3 linked regions of the Homo sapiens genome follow. The protein of the gene in region 1 purifies or fractionates together with the protein of each later gene. This does not show direct contact. Each region holds a gene or a part of one and is shown in the gene's direction. Other genes may lie near its edges. The genes, in order: ITGA2, CD46 and CA9.

The links.
Region 2: the proteins of ITGA2 (region 1) and CD46 purify together in Homo sapiens (affinity purification with western blotting, with the first as the bait; one study listed by BioGRID). This does not show direct contact.
Region 3: the proteins of ITGA2 (region 1) and CA9 purify together in Homo sapiens (affinity purification with western blotting, with the first as the bait; one study listed by BioGRID). This does not show direct contact.

The regions. Positions count from the first base shown.
Region 1 is NC_000005.10:53,069,311-53,072,969, forward strand, and holds part of ITGA2 (integrin alpha-2 precursor), read left to right. Parts: intron 1-798; coding exon 799-950; intron 951-2,627; coding exon 2,628-2,738; intron 2,739-3,302; coding exon 3,303-3,385; intron 3,386-3,659. UniProt on the Homo sapiens protein: Integrin alpha-2/beta-1 is a receptor for laminin, collagen, collagen C-propeptides, fibronectin and E-cadherin. It recognizes the proline-hydroxylated sequence G-F-P-G-E-R in collagen.
Region 2 is NC_000001.11:207,761,921-207,765,579, forward strand, and holds part of CD46 (membrane cofactor protein isoform 3 precursor), read left to right. Parts: intron 1-3,659. UniProt on the Homo sapiens protein: Acts as a cofactor for complement factor I, a serine protease which protects autologous cells against complement-mediated injury by cleaving C3b and C4b deposited on host tissue.
Region 3 is NC_000009.12:35,676,850-35,679,374, forward strand, and holds part of CA9 (carbonic anhydrase 9 precursor), read left to right. Parts: intron 1-827; coding exon of another isoform or gene 828-842; exon of another isoform or gene 843-940; coding exon 941-1,007; intron 1,008-2,335; coding exon 2,336-2,493; intron 2,494-2,525. UniProt on the Homo sapiens protein: Catalyzes the interconversion between carbon dioxide and water and the dissociated ions of carbonic acid (i.e. bicarbonate and hydrogen ions).

The DNA.
Region 1 (3,659 bases):
AGTTGGTATTAGGAAACAGAGGTTCAAAGAGGGTAAGTAAATTGCCCCAAGTCACAGAGCTCATAAACAGCAGAATTAGGATTCAAACCAAGTCTGCCTGACTGAGACTTTATTGCTGCAGTGTTGCATGCATTTCCCTATGTGAGCATCTAGAATAGGTCAAGCACTGTCCATGTTCCCTTAGAGTATCTCAGTTAATCTTCACAATAACAATTAATTCTTACAACTGGATGGAAGCAGAAAGAATATGAGCTCTTATTTCAAAAATACCCAACTTTTACTTCTGACTAGCCATGTGAACTTAGGTGAATTATTTTACATCACTTATTCTAGTACATTATTTGAAAAATAAGATAATAAAATTCACTTTCCAGATTCATTGTAAAACTTGTATGGCATACATGAGAATGTGTCCAGTTGCAGGCGCTCAGCAACTGTTCCTTTCCATTCTGTGTCTCCGTGTTATGAGTAATGAAACCCGTGCTTGTGGGAGTGAGCAATTTGCCCAGGTTCATCACAGTAGGTTTCCTGGCGGCAAGTCTAGTTTCCTTTCCACTGCTCCCAGCCACATTTCTCTGAATCACATTTCTTTGTATGCACAGTCACCTACGTCACATCAGAGCTAGAATGACAAATGCTTTGTGGTGCTAGCTATGGTTCACAAGCCACCAATATGAAGACTATTTCCATATTTTCTTGATGTGAGATACTTTGTCCAAGAAGACACAATAAAGCAAAGATGCTTTTTCCTATAAGTTGATTTGAAATAACATTTCTTTATGATTTTTTTTATCATAGCCATTGTATATAACATCACACTTGATGCAGATGGATTTTCATCCAGAGTAACCTCCAGGGGGTTATTTAAAGAAAACAATGAAAGGTGCCTGCAGAAGAATATGGTAGTAAATCAAGCACAGAGTTGCCCCGAGCACATCATTTATATACAGGTAAGGCCTCAGGAACATCCCTTTTGACTTTATTTCTTCCTAAAGACGAGAGAGTGGTAAAAGTCAAAAATGGAAGCTTATGAGTTAGAAAATGCTCACCCTTCCAATGAATGCCTTTCTTATGTAATTCCATAAATAAGAAGCATATTTACTTTATGCTAATATTTATGGTCACAATCTATTATATAAGTCAGCAACATCAAATTTCATTTAGAATTGCAATGAAAGGGCTAAAAATACAATTCTTAAAGAAATCATAGATACAGTGTTTTCTTAAATGTTTAACAGAGAGAACTTTCCATTGGCAATAAATGTTATTTTGATATTTTCCTATCAGGGAAAAATTTTATTTATTGTTCAGCTACTGAAAAATAACTCCAATTGTGGTTTCTACTATTAGATTTAAGTTAACATAGATGAAATATAGTAGATTATGAGATAACAATTATTTGTTCTAATCGTATGCTGTAATTACTGTATTTAACATGGATTTTGAAAATTTCCCAAGTGAGAAAAATGCTTTTCAGGAGAAAACTTCCAGCCGGAAATTTATTTTATAAATGATGTGAATATTTCCACCTTGGAAACCACATAATGGCATTTGAAAGGATAATTTACTCAGGAAATCACTTTTTTAAAAGGATATTTAAGTACTTTCTTAGAATACAGTTCTCAGAATTTAAGGTGCGAAAGAACTGCCAGGGAAACTTTTGGGAAATGTATATTCTGGGTTCTTACCATCAGAAATCTAGGTTTGAAGGCCCAAGGAATATGCAGATCTAAGGAGCAACCCAAATATTTCTGATGTAAATGGATGGTACAGAGAGATCTTACTTCAAGAAATGCTAAGTGTAAACACTAGAAAAACATAAAGTTGACGGTTAGATGAATTAAAATCAGTTGAGTTGTTTAGTTCATTTTTCAATTTGAAGGTTTCTTGTTTGTGAAGACGTAGACTTCTTTTTTGTTAAAGTGACAATTTTATAGATTCCTTAAAGGAAAAAATCTTATTTCCCTTCTCTCCCATCCTGTGCTGACTGGTGGATCAGATTATACATGCAATCCCTAGTGAGGAAATGGAGACAGCCAAGCTGTTTTTCTTTAAAGTTTAAAAAAACAAAATCCTTTTTCACTATTTGATATCAATGCCAGTTAAAGTACATCCTACTTGCTAAGCCCGCAGCCAGCCAAGGAAACATCTCCTCATAGTCCAGAGCTGTCATGGTAGACAGGCCCCCAGAAGGAATAAGTCCTTCTGGGAGGACTTCTGGGAGGCCCCCAAGAGTTAAGAGTAAGTCCTGCCTGTGAATGGACTAAAGAATACCAAGATACCGCTTCTGAGGAAAAGGCAAATTCAAATGTTAGGGTTTCATTTGTATAGACATAGTGCTTTTTTGACAAGAACTGATGAGCTTAACTAAGAATCCCTGCTTCAAATTCTTACTAGACCCAAGTCTCTTTTGGTTTCTTAGTAGAAGAGAGGCTAAAAGCAGAATTAGGATGGAAGAAAAGAAGCGAGAGTCTTGATTATTCACAACAAAGATATTCTACATAATTGAGAGCTGACTGTGCTCTAAATTGTAAACACATTTGGAATCATTTTCTTGTTTTAATGTTGCTATGCTCTAATAAACTGACTCTGTCTCCCCCTGTATGTTTGTGTGTGTGTATGTTTAGGAGCCCTCTGATGTTGTCAACTCTTTGGATTTGCGTGTGGACATCAGTCTGGAAAACCCTGGCACTAGCCCTGCCCTTGAAGCCTATTCTGAGACTGCCAAGGTCTTCAGTGTAAGTGCAGCTTACACTTCCTGGATTTAGACTGGCAAATAAAGTTCCACAGTCACTGCAATAGTGTCTGAAGGATGGTTAGGATGCAGCCTGAAAATTCTTAATTTTCTAAATGAACTACAATTACATATGCATAAAGTTCACTAACACTTAAGTTCCATGACAGCAGGGATTTTTGTCTTTCTTGTTCACTGCTGTGTTTCCACTCCCTAGAGCAGGGCCTGGCCCATTGTATGTGTTCAATATATATTTGTTGAATAAATAAATAAAAATAAAGTAAATGCCTTGTGCTCATACTCAAAAAATATTACCAATACATATGAAGCTCTGCGTATAGCTGTCCCCGCCATAGACACTTTCATCTAGCTCCCCCTGTGCAAATGATTATCTTGAATTGTGTGTTTATTAATGCTTTTCTTTATTATTTTGTTAAACATTTATATATTCCTAGAACATTGTTTGGTTTTGTACTTTATGTAAATAGAATAATATTCTATGTATTCTTCTGTAATTTGCTTTTTCAACCCAAGAGCAAATGTATGGATCTTTTTTCCTTTTTCGTAGATTCCTTTCCACAAAGACTGTGGTGAGGACGGACTTTGCATTTCTGATCTAGTCCTAGATGTCCGACAAATACCAGCTGCTCAGTAAGTTTTACTTTAAAGCTTGTTGTAAAATGTAGAAATAAAAGACATACTAGATTACTTTATTCAAACGAATGTTTATAGAGTTTTTCTACAAAAGAAACATTCATAACTCATAAATACCTTTAAAAACTAAATTTCAATGTCTACCATCCACATAGGAGTAAAACAATAAGAAATATAAAATTATCTGTATTTAAATGGTTCCATTCCCTCTAATACAATAGCAACAAAGAACAATCCAATTGCATTTACTTATTTGTTGTCAGTATCATTT
Region 2 (3,659 bases), on another chromosome or scaffold:
TAGGGGACTTGCCCATTTAAAGAAAGAAATCACTGAATAACAGTGATTTAAAAGTATATACTCCCCAAGTACACATGAAACATTCTCCAAAGTAGACCATATTCTAGACAATAAGACAACTTTTAACAAACTTCAGAAAATTGAAATCATTCAACATGCATTATCACAATAGAATGAAAGCAGAAATCAATAACAAAGCCAATCCCCAAAGAATTGGAAAGTGTACAGGACACTTCTAAATAACCCATGCATAAAAGAAGTAGTCAGCAGGGAGATTAGAAAGTGTTTTGAATTGAATAAAAACACAACATCTCAAAATATCCAAATATGTAGGATGCAGCTAAAGCATTGCTTACAGGGGAATGTATAGCATAATATACTTGTGTTAGAAAAAAAGAAAAGTCTCAAATCAATGATCTAATTTTCCACCTTAAGAAACTAAAAAAGAGCAAGTTAAATCCCAAACTAGCAGATGTAAGGAAATGATAAAAATAGAGCCAAAATCAATGAAATTGAGAAAAGAAAAAAAAATAGAGGAAATCAGTGAAACCAACAGTTGCTACTTGGAGATCAATAAAGTGTGTAAACCTGTAGCCAGACTGACAAAAAAAGACGCAAATTAACCAATACTGAGAATGAAAGAAGTGGTGGCCAGGCGCGGCACCCCAGCCAGCTTGAAGACCCTGCCCTCCTGCAGCCGGCAGGGGCAGTCACTCCCGGACTTGTCCTTTTAGAAGTTCCAGCTTTACCACTTGCTGGTGGAGCCCAACCACTGCCGCAGGGTCCTCATCGCCAACACGCCTGGCAGATCCAAGAGGAGATGGCCCAGGATGAGACGTGGCACACACAGGCACCCGAGAGTGTGGGGTTGGCGTTGTTCCACTGCCTGGTTTCTGCAGAGATCCTGTGCCTGTGGCCTGTGCCCGCCATGTGGAAGCCAGAGGGGGTGTGCCATGCCCCCCGCTTTGGACACTGCTGCGTGAAGGGGCCAGTTTTCAGACCTTTGCTCTGTCACCTCAGCACTGGCGCCAGGAGCCCTGAAGAGCAGCATCTGGGAGACGGACAGCCCTGGGGAAAATAGAGGAGGCGTTCAGAAGTAGCTAGATGAGATATTTGAAATACTGAAGACCAAAAACCCCAGTTTGCATGGAAGAACTGGCCTCAGATGTGGTCAGTTCCTATGATGACCTGGACACACGGTGCTGACCCACACGATGGGAGGTGGCCCTGCAAAGCATTCAGAGGCTTGGGCCTGCTGCCGTCCGGCCTCCCACCTCCAGCTGCAATTGCATTCTGACCTGGGCAAGTAGGAACACGTAGTGGAGATCCTGATGGAGACCTGAGCCAGGCGTCCCGGAGTGCTGGCCAGGCGTGGAGTACGGGATCCAGCTAAGGGAGACTGGCCAGCCTATAGCCCCCCAGCCTTGCTGGCTCCTCTGCTAATTCCAGCAGGGTCTGCAGCCCCAGACCCATCCCCTTCCTTCCCGTCTGCAGAGGGCAGGCCAGAGGCTGGTCTCAGTGGGAGCTAGGGCTCTCCTCAAGGGCTTTTTGACCTTGGGCCAGTCTTGACATCCCCACAGCCCTGCGCCCCTCATCACTTTTCGTGTCTCTCGGAGACGGCGAGCTGCAACTGCAGCAATCTTGTTTAAATTTAGGTAGGTGAATTTCTTAGAATTAAGTTTCATATGTTTTGAGCAATAAGTTTTCTTAAGATATATATATTTTAATCTTTTTAGTTTTATCTCTGAATATTTTTTATTTTTTTTCAATGTATTTTTTTTCTGGAAACATTCTGTGCTGCTACATTAGAGCCTACACAGTTTAGTTGGTACATTTCATTCTTTTAAGGTTCAAATAAGGGATTTTATTTTCCAGTGAGTTTCCTTGCATTGTTAACAAGTCAACAGCGTTAACGTATGATTTTTTGGTTTTTTTTTTTTGTATACTTTAAATTTGTGTGCAACCCTTCTCATTTATGCCCTGTGTTACAGTGAGAGCTTGGTCAAAGTGGGGAAAACACACACAGCTGCTACACTTTTTTTTTTTTTTTTTGTCATTGGAACATTTGTGCCATGTCTTCCTAGACTTAAGTGTAAATTATGGAGGGTTTTATTTGACAATTTATATGTAAATGTCATTGAAGGCTAAGGTTAAATCTTTGGAAATCACAGGCACCAGTTGATCTTTAGAGACCTCAGATCCCCTCAGGTGGCGCCTTGTGATAGGCGGTGTTCTGGGAGGCTTCCTGTCAGGTTCCACAGCACAGGCACCTGCTCTGGGCACGGACTGAGCTCCTGGGGTGTGCACGGAGCTGCGGTGCGCCAGTCACATGCGCTTGGAAACAGCGTGTGCTGCTGGATTGGAAATGCCTACGTTGCTCTGTTAAATTGGTGCTGGAGCCAAAACCTAAGGTTAAATTTAAGTCTAGAATGAAAGAAATCTGAATCCATGTAATTAATGGCCGCTCGATCTTGAGAGTCCTTGACGGCCCTGCCTCAGGAAGTGAGGTGGGGGTGCCTACACCTTTCACTTTCCTTCCTCACGTCCACCCCGTATGTGTTTCTCATCCTTTTTCTGACTTCCCCCCATCCCTTAGCCAAAAAGCTTTATATTCTTTTGTGCATATGGTCATTCTTTAATATCAGTGATGTAAACTTTACTTGATTACTTTACAAAATTATTCAACAGACAAACAAAAGAATGAAAAAGAGAATATCACTAAATATCCTACAGACATTTAAAGGATGACAAGGGAATATTATAAACAACTTTATGCCTACAAATTTGACAACTGAAATGGACAGATTCCTTGAAAGATACAAAATGTCAAAACTCACTTGAAGATATGGATAACCTGAATACTCCTATATCTACCAAAGAAATAAAATTTGTAGTTAATAACCTACTGAAGGTCCAGATGGCTTCACTGGGGAGTTCTACCAACCATCTAAGGAATAAATCACAGCAATTCTACACAAGCGTTTCAAGAAAGTGCAAGAGGAGGGAACACTTCTCATCCCATTTTATGATGATAGCATTGTCCTTATACGAAAACCAGAAAACAAAAACATTATAAGAAAATTACAAATAATATCCTTGATGAACACAGGACCAAAAATCTTCAACAAAATATTAGCAAACCAAATCCTGTGATACATAAAAAGAAAAGTAAATCATGACCAAGTAGGATTTACCCTATGAATGCAAGATTAGTTCAAATGCAAAAATTAATCAGTGTAATTTGCCACATCAGTAGACTATTAAGGAGAAAAAAAATCATGTGGTTATCTTATTAGATGCAAAAAACAAAGAAAATGTTTGACAGAATTCATCATCTTATTTTTTCATGATAAAACTTCTCAGCAAACTAGGAACAGAAGGGTACTATCTATCTTACCCTGATAACAGACATCTACAAAAATCTCACAGCTAACATTACACTTCATGGTTCAAAAAAATTATACTTAGTGGTAAAAAGTAACATTGTACTTAGTGGTTAAAAAAACCTTACTTACATTTCTGTCTAATTAATAAAGACCTAATTCTGGAAGGAAAACAGTGAGGATGTCCACTCTTACCACTCCATTCAGCATTATATTGGAGATCCCACCCAGTACAGTAAGGCAAGAGAAAGCTATTAGGCACACATGTTGGAAAAG
Region 3 (2,525 bases), on another chromosome or scaffold:
CACTTTTATTTATTTATTTATTTTTTTGACAGTCTCTCTGTCGCCCAGGCTGGAGTGCAGTGGTGTGATCTTGGGTCACTGCAACTTCCGCCTCCCGGGTTCAAGGGATTCTCCTGCCTCAGCTTCCTGAGTAGCTGGGGTTACAGGTGTGTGCCACCATGCCCAGCTAATTTTTTTTTGTATTTTTAGTAGACAGGGTTTCACCATGTTGGTCAGGCTGGTCTCAAACTCCTGGCCTCAAGTGATCCGCCTGACTCAGCCTACCAAAGTGCTGATTACAAGTGTGAGCCACCGTGCCCAGCCACACTCACTGATTCTTTAATGCCAGCCACACAGCACAAAGTTCAGAGAAATGCCTCCATCATAGCATGTCAATATGTTCATACTCTTAGGTTCATAATGTTCTTAACATTAGGTTCATAAGCAAAATAAGAAAAAAGAATAATAAATAAAAGAAGTGGCATGTCAGGACCTCACCTGAAAAGCCAAACACAGAATCATGAAGGTGAATGCAGAGGTGACACCAACACAAAGGTGTATATATGGTTTCCTGTGGGGAGTATGTACGGAGGCAGCAGTGAGTGAGACTGCAAACGTCAGAAGGGCACGGGTCACTGAGAGCCTAGTATCCTAAGTAAAGTGGGCTCTCTCCCTCTCTCTCCAGCTTGTCATTGAAAACCAGTCCACCAAGCTTGTTGGTTCGCACAGCAAGAGTACATAGAGTTTGAAATAATACATAGGATTTTAAGAGGGAGACACTGTCTCTAAAAAAAAAAACAACAGCAACAACAAAAAGCAACAACCATTACAATTTTATGTTCCCTCAGCATTCTCAGAGCTGAGGAATGGGAGAGGTCTATGGGAACCCCCCTTCATGTTCCGGCCTTCAGCCATGGCCCTGGATACATGCACTCATCTGTCTTACAATGTCATCCCCCAGGAGGGCCCGGAAGAAAACAGTGCCTATGAGCAGTTGCTGTCTCGCTTGGAAGAAATCGCTGAGGAAGGTCAGTTTGTTGGTCTGGCCACTAATCTCTGTGGCCTAGTTCATAAAGAATCACCCTTTGGAGCTTCAGGTCTGAGGCTGGAGATGGGCTCCCTCCAGTGCAGGAGGGATTGAAGCATGAGCCAGCGCTCATCTTGATAATAACCATGAAGCTGACAGACACAGTTACCCGCAAACGGCTGCCTACAGATTGAAAACCAAGCAAAAACCGCCGGGCACGGTGGCTCACGCCTGTAATCCCAGCACTTTGGGAGGCCAAGGCAGGTGGATCACGAGGTCAAGAGATCAAGACCATCCTGGCCAACATGGTGAAACCCCATCTCTACTAAAAATACGAAAAAATAGCCAGGCGTGGTGGCGGGTGCCTGTAATCCCAGCTACTCGGGAGGCTGAGGCAGGAGAATGGCATGAACCCGGGAGGCAGAAGTTGCAGTGAGCCGAGATCGTGCCACTGCACTCCAGCCTGGGCAACAGAGCGAGACTCTTGTCTCAAAAAAAAAAAAAAAAAAGAAAACCAAGCAAAAACCAAAATGAGACAAAAAAAACAAGACCAAAAAATGGTGTTTGGAATTGTCAAGGTCAAGTCTGGAGAGCTAAACTTTTTCTGAGAACTGTTTATCTTTAATAAGCATCAAATATTTTAACTTTGTAAATACTTTTGTTGGAAATCGTTCTCTTCTTAGTCACTCTTGGGTCATTTTAAATCTCACTTACTCTACTAGACCTTTTAGGTTTCTGCTAGACTAGGTAGAACTCTGCCTTTGCATTTCTTGTGTCTGTTTTGTATAGTTATCAATATTCATATTTATTTACAAGTTATTCAGATCATTTTTTCTTTTCTTTTCTTTTTTTTTTTTTTTACATCTTTAGTAGAGACAGGGTTTCACCATATTGGCCAGGCTGCTCTCAAACTCCTGACCTTGTGATCCACCAGCCTCGGCCTCCCAAAGTGCTGGGATTCATTTTTTCTTTTTAATTTGCTCTGGGCTTAAACTTGTGGCCCAGCACTTTATGATGGTACACAGAGTTAAGAGTGTAGACTCAGACGGTCTTTCTTCTTTCCTTCTCTTCCTTCCTCCCTTCCCTCCCACCTTCCCTTCTCTCCTTCCTTTCTTTCTTCCTCTCTTGCTTCCTCAGGCCTCTTCCAGTTGCTCCAAAGCCCTGTACTTTTTTTTGAGTTACGTCTTATGGGAAGGGCCTGCACTTAGCGAAGAAGTGGTCTCAGAGTTGAGTTACCTTGGCTTCTGGGAGGTGAAACTGTATCCCTATACCCTGAAGCTTTAAGGGGGTGCAATGTAGATGAGACCCCAACATAGATCCTCTTCACAGGCTCAGAGACTCAGGTCCCAGGACTGGACATATCTGCACTCCTGCCCTCTGACTTCAGCCGCTACTTCCAATATGAGGGGTCTCTGACTACACCGCCCTGTGCCCAGGGTGTCATCTGGACTGTGTTTAACCAGACAGTGATGCTGAGTGCTAAGCAGGTGGGCCTGGGGTGTGTGTGGACACAGTGGGT